Linked DNA regions of Homo sapiens. The protein of the gene in region 2 purifies or fractionates together with the protein of the main gene of each other region. This does not show direct contact. Each region holds a gene or a part of one and is shown on either strand. Other genes may lie near its edges. The genes, in order: NMT2 and PHETA2.

Region 1 (3,818 bases), on a different chromosome or scaffold from region 2:
AAAGTGCTGTCAGACAGAGATCTCCTTGAACCAACTGCATACGTGCATTTCCACTAACTCTGTTCTCTCCCTTGCCCCAGAGAACGAAAAGCAGTAAGTCACACTTCTTTCTCGGCAGTCCAATTTGGGGCCCCTTATATTGTGCTGTGTAGAGGCCAAGAAGGGCCTGGAGTTGGGACTTCAGCCTAAGTGCCCATTGGTGATTTGCACAAAGTTCTTAGGAAGCAGAATGTCATGCCTGTAATCCCAGCACTTTGGGAGGATGAGGCGTGTGGATCATGAGGTCAGGAGTTCGAGACCAGCCTGACCAACATGGTGAAACCCCATCTCTACTAAAGATATGAAAACTTAGCCAGGTGTGGTGGCGCACACCTGTAATCCCAGCTACTTGGGAGGCTGAGGCTGGAGAATCGCTTGAACCCCAGAGGCGGAGGTTGCAGTGAGCCAAGATTGTGTCACTGCACTCCAGCCTGGGCGACAGGATGAGACTCAAAAAAAAAAAAAAAAAAAAAAAAAAGAAAGAAAGATAGAAGCAGAATGTCCTAAAAGGAAAGCTTCCCTCAGGCTGACAAATGAGTCAATTCTTTAGACTAAGGGAACAGTGATAAAAGCAGATTCATTGTTTTTGCAGAAATAAAAGCTTTAAGGATTAGAGGGCTGCCTTCTCCAACTAAAAGATACTGTGTACTATCTCACACTGTCTTAGCACACAGAAAGAATTATATCAGGCCTAAGTAAGGTTGGGTAGAGTCTGGAAGCTGTTTGGAAGAGTTCGCAAGCTTGTGAAAGGTCTTACTACTGCACCAAAATATACACATGTGAACAACTGGAGAATTTTGCAGCTATCAAAAATAAGGGATACAATGGATGACATTCATTTCATCATCACTGGCAAAGCTTCCAATACAAGAAATTAGCCAGTATTGTTCGGGTTGTTGTAATTAGCTGTGGTGGCCTTGCTGACTTTTAGAATATGATGTGTTTGAATCGTGCGGCTGAAGAGGCTGGACCACACACATGCCACTGCTAGTATTTCTTTCAGCAGAAAAGGAAATTCCAGAAGGATGTATGCTTTGGTTTTCAAAGGCTTCCGAGTCATTAGACCTTTCTTCAGCCAGCAAGAAACTAAAGGGGTTAATCTACAGTGATTCCCTACTGCTCTATATTAGCAGCTCAGTATTGGAGATGAATTCAACCTTCAGGTTTAATAAGGATTTTAGATTCTTCTAAGAATTTCTCATATCCATCTCATACGCTGAATTACTGCAGGCACCTGCAGAACCTGATTAGGTTCCCCACCCCATTTTCATCATCTGCTTTCAGAAAACTACTTCTTCACATTCATATTGCTGGTAAAATTACTGTTTCCTCTCTTGCTGTTAAAATGACCAGAGAATCACCAACTGTTGGGGAAGAGTGGGATGATCTTTCCATTGTCCCTCACACCCAATCAATTGTAAAGACTGATAAAAAACAAAACAAAACAAAACAAAACAAAAAAACCCCGCTCACAACAAAACCCACCATGGCACCATGTCTAGATGGCTTATAAGCAACTTCTAACAACTTTCAAGGAACAAGTAATCCCTATTATTACATACACTGTTCCAGAGAAAAGAGAGGACAAGCTCTTCAGCTCATTCTAACTTTGGTATCAAGACAGGACAAGGACAGGGTAAGAAGGGGAAATTAATGGCCAACCTCAGTAGTGAGTATAGAAGATCCTAAGTAAAATATTAGCAAACTAGGGCTGGGCATGGTGGCTCATGCCTGTAATCTCAGCACTTGGGGAGGCCAAAGTGGGTGGATTTTCTGAGCTCAGAAGTTCGAGACCAGCCTGGCCAACGTGGTGAAACCCCGTCTCTACTAAAATACAAAACATTAGCAGGGTGTGGTGGCATGCGCCTGTAGTTCCAGCTACACAGGAGGCTGAGCACAAGAATTGCTTGAACCCAAGAGGCGGAGGTTGCAGTGAGCAGAGATTGCACCATTGTACTCCAGCCTGGGTGACAGAGCAAGACACTGTCTCCAAAAAAAATTAAAAAAAAAAATTGGGAAACTAAATCTAAAAACAGAGGTAGTCTCACACAAATGGAAACCAAAAGAATGTGTCACTAGCAGACATACCCTGAGACTGGCTAAAGGAATTTCTTCAAATAGAAAGGAAATAATAAAAGAAGGAATCTTGAAGCATCAGGAAGGAGGGAAGAATAATAGAGTAGAAATTTGGGCTACATATAATAAATTATGCTTCTCCTCAAGCATCATTATTAATCAGTGTTACAAATCATACTTGATGATTAAAACAAAAATCATAATACTGTCTGATATTTAAGACAACAATATTTAAAAATGAAAAAGGTAAAGTGACCTAAATAAAAGTAAGGTGACTCAAAGTAATAAATGTTGTTACCAATCGACTATAAGTCACATATATATATTGTAATACTCACATCAACCATCATAAAAACTATACAAATACACCCAAAGGTACTATAAATAAAACAGTATCCTAAAATATATTCAAGTAATCCACAGCAAGGCAAGAAAAAAGAAACAGAGGAACAAGAACCAGAAGAAACATAAAGAAACCAAATAATCAAATGGTAGACTTAAGCTCTACCATACCAATAATCACCTTTTATGTAAGTGGTCTAAATACACCAATCAAAAGAAACATCAGTAGTGTGGGTAAAGAAACATGACCCAGCTATAGGCTGTTTCCAAGAAACTCACTTCAAATTCAATAACATCAATAGTTTGAAAGTAAAAGGATGGAAAAAGTCCAAACAATTTTTAAAAGCAGGTCTGGTCACAGTAATATACAATAAAGTATACTCCAGAGCAAGGAAAATTATTAGAAAGAGAGGTATTACATTATGATAAAAAGATCAATCCACTAGGGAGACACAAAGACCCTAATATACATGTGAGTATCAAACAAGAGGCCCAGAAGAAATCAAGAAAAACTGACAGTGTTGGAAGGAGAAATAGACAAATCCACAATTACAGCTGGGGACTTCCATGCCCCTCTCATCAAGTGATAGAACTGCTAGACAGAAAATCAGCATGGAAACAGAAGAGCTGAATAACTCAATTAATCAACATGATGCAATTGCCATACAAAGAACACTCCACACAACCGTAGTGGTATACACGTTTCATGCACCCATGGAATATCCATCAAGACAGTCCATATCCCGAGTAATAAAACAAACCTCAAGAGCCTTAAAATAATCAAAACCATACAGTGTGTGTTCTTTAACCATAATTGAATCAAACTAGAAATCTGTAATAGGGAGACAACAGAAAATCTCTAAACACAGCAAAATTGAACAGCACAATTCTAAGTAGGGGTGGGCTAAAGAGGAAGCCTCAAACGAAACCAAAAAATACATAGACGTGAATGACAACGAAGATACAACATACCAAAATACGTCAGAAATAGCTAAAGCAGTGCAGAGAGGGAAACTGATAGAACTAAATGCTTACTAGTAACAGGGAAAGGTCTCAAGTCAGTAAGTTCTTCCCTCAAGGAACTAGAAAAGAAGAGCAAAATAAACCCAAAGCAAGCAGACAGAAGGAAACAATAAACACGAGGGTAGAAATCAATGACACTGAAAACAGGAAGACAACAGGGAATATCCAACAAAAGTCTGGTTCTCTGGGAAACAAATCAATAAAATGATACAAGTCTACCAATATGGACAAAAACAAAGAAAGAGAAGACACGAATCACCAATATCTGGTATGAAAGAAGAGATATCAGTACAGATCCCACAGCCACTAAAAGGATAACAAGGGAATAAAATGAACAT
Region 2 (3,009 bases):
AAAATGGCGCCGCTGCGGGTAACGATGACTGACCTCGACGGTACCAGGCTCCGGCCTGAGCCGCTCCATGCGGCGGAGACATCGCCATCTTTCCTCAAGCTAGGCCCGCTCCGGAGAGCCCCGGACCTGACGGGTGCCAATACTAGCCAGCGAGCCGCTCCGGACGCCATGCCCCCAGCTCCGCCCCTCACCCGGGCACCCGCACCCCACCGCCCAGCCCTCGTGCCGCCCTCGGGAAGAAAGCCGCCCGAAGCCTCGCGAGAGTTTGAGGAGTACACGAGAAGCCCAGCCCTCCCACTCGCGCAGTGCCGGCGGCTCCTGGGGCGGCGGGAGGGAGGTGTTTGTCACTGGCCGGCATGGTGGCGTCACGAGAGTGGCGGCGCAGCCCCGGCTCCCTCAGTCCGCGTCCTGCTGGGCGTGGCCGCGGTCTTGGGTCCGCCCGGCCGTCAGAACAGGCCTCAGCGGCCGGTTGTGGAAATAAACCCAGGGAGCGGAAGGAGTAATAACGAAAAAGCTTTACTAGTGTTTTAACCGTGTACAAAACACTGTAGCAATAAGAGAAAGGCCCGTGCTATCTGTGTTTAAACAAAATGCAGTGGCTGCGGGGCTTCCAGGCAGGGCTGGGGAACAGGCCGGGCGCCCGCCTTGGGCGCATCTCCGCCTCTTAGGGGTAAGAGGCTCAGAGCCTACCCCTTAGGCCTAGTTGGATGCGGGTCGGTCCTGCCCAAGGCCCCAGTGAGGGGAGCCGAGGCTAGGAAGGGGCAAGTTTTATGTGTTTGGGAGGGGGTGTCTCTTCCCGGCCTCTGCGTCTTCCCCCTGGAGCGTCAGTATGGTCAGGCTCTGGTGACCCAGCCGCTTTGCCTCCCGACTTTGGGAAGAGTAGCAAGGAGAGGTCCTGGCAAGTACACCCTGGGTGACAAACGGCTATGAGAGTTCCCAGGTGATTTCTCGAGCAGCTTCAGTTTACCGGAGCCCAGCCAGGAGAGAGAATTTTAGCACAGGAAACGCAATCCCGTGTCCAAGCTCCTAGAATACCCAGGACTGAGAACCAAAGCAACAGACTTTTCCCAGGGAGCCACACTGCCTCCCCACCTCTTCTTTAACCCCTCACTTGGCAGCTCCAGGAGTTGGCTGCTGAAGACAGAGTACAGGAGGGCATTTCGTTGACGTAAAAAAGCTACAAGCCCCTTCCGGGGCAAGGTCCAGCACCATCTGTTAACAGGGCAGCCAGGGAGAAAGGATGGGACCCCAGCACTCTGAGCAGAATAAATCTCTCTTCACTGGCCGAAGACCCTCTGCCTCAAAGGGCCCTACCCAGACTGCTGAGTGAGGATCCCATCCCCAATCTTCCCACCCCTCTCAGGAAGAGCTGGGTCCCAGAAACTCCTATGACACAATAAATCCACTTTCTCTGACAGTGTCAGAGCTTCAAGCCGATACTGCAGCCTACCTCGGATTTAAGTGCACAGGAGACTCCCCAGGTTGGAAATTATGGCTCTAGAGCCCGGTGTGTAGGCCAAAGGTATGGCAAGCCTGTGACAGTCTCGGGTGACATTCCCCACTTCCTTCATTTCATTAACATCCCCTGGGAGGGGGCAGTCAGGCCAGTGCAGTCAGGAGATTGGGGTCTTGCTCTGTGGCTGCTAAGTCTCCTTCCTTCTCTGGACCTCAGGAAATAAAGAGGATGGAAGGAATGGTCCCGCAGTCCCTTCCAGACACACGGGTGGATCTCGAACCTGGAGAATGCCTAAATAGCAGGAAGGAGAGAACCCATGTCCCCTCCCAAAACGCAACCTTGGAAATGGGTAAACATTTAACTCCTGAAAAAGAACTGGCCCTGGTTTCCTGACTCAAAGGGCCCAGACTTAGGGCCTATCCTGTTCCTCACATTTTGAGTGGCTCCCCTGGGCCCTCTTCTGCCAACACTGCCGCAGCTCCACGATCTCCTGGCCATACCAGTCATGCAGGGTAGAGAAGCAGGAGGTCTCAGGGGACACAGGGCTCTGCCCCTTGCCTAGGAGGAGGCTGGCAGGGCCCTGCAGCTCCCACTCAGCCAACCCCCACCCTGCAGACCTGCTGCCCGCTTCTTCAACCAAGCCCACAGGGCTGCTGTCCTTGGAGAGGCAGTGGCCATTCTCCAGGCCCGCAGCTCGGTGGTTAGGAGCCTGGGGCTTACAGCGGCTGGCAACAGACTTCCAGGATGAGCGGCGTTGCAAAGCCAGGCTCTGGCGTGCGTCCTGCAACTGGCTCTCCAACTCGCGTACCACCAGGCGCATGTAGCCAAAGCTTGCCCGGGACAGCACCTTCACCCAGGCCTCCTGGGCCGCCGGCCCTTCTGCGGCCAGCAGGTGTGGGCGCACTCCAGGGGCATCAAAGCAGATGGCAAAGGCAAACTCCTCGGGCACGGGAGCCTCGGCCAGTTCCACTGTGCAGCCTTCCAGCACCACCAGGCTCAGTGGGGCCCGGCCCTCGCGACTCTCAAAGGAGAATAGCAGGTTGCCCTTGAGGACAAACCAGCATCTTCGGCCAGTGCCACTGGGGGTCGGTGGGGTCCCTGGGCCCCCCCAGGTGCGCAGGAAGCCCATGTGGTCCGCTGGGGAGTCGCTGAGTGCATAGTGGGCTACACTCCTCTCGTTCAGCTTCATGGCTCCCACGGGAACTGTGAGGCAAGAGAGATGGCAGCAGATCAGAGAGGGAGGTGGTTCCGTGCCCTCCTGGGGAACAGCACCGGCTCCAGAGGCAACCTGGACCCCAGCCCTGGGACTCCTACTCGCTTGCTGTGTCCCTAAGGTCCCTAAAGTCTCCTGAGAAGTGGGCTCGTCTTTCCTTCCTTTTCTCTCAAAGGGATGTCGTGAGGATCATGCAAAAAAAACTGGACACTGGCGGACTTCGAGAAAAGAATAACGAGATTGCATCAGACAGGAGGCATGGCAGGACCTGGGCACGGCTTTCTAAAATCCAAAGAAACAGGCCCCAGCTGAGCTGAAATGGACCCCAGACCCATCGAAA

What was found.
Region 1: the proteins of PHETA2 (region 2) and NMT2 purify together in Homo sapiens (affinity purification with mass spectrometry; one large-scale study listed by BioGRID and IntAct). This does not show direct contact.

The regions. Positions count from the first base shown.
Region 1 is NC_000010.11:15,112,973-15,116,790, forward strand, and holds part of NMT2 (glycylpeptide N-tetradecanoyltransferase 2), read right to left. Parts: intron 1-3,818.
Region 2 is NC_000022.11:42,076,930-42,079,938, reverse strand, and holds the end of PHETA2 (sesquipedalian-2), read right to left. Parts: intron 2,660-3,009; 5' UTR 2,646-2,659; coding exon 1,866-2,645; 3' UTR 501-1,865; downstream 1-500. Other genes in the region: SMDT1 (essential MCU regulator, mitochondrial precursor), read right to left, coding at 1-170. UniProt on the Homo sapiens protein: Plays a role in endocytic trafficking. Required for receptor recycling from endosomes, both to the trans-Golgi network and the plasma membrane.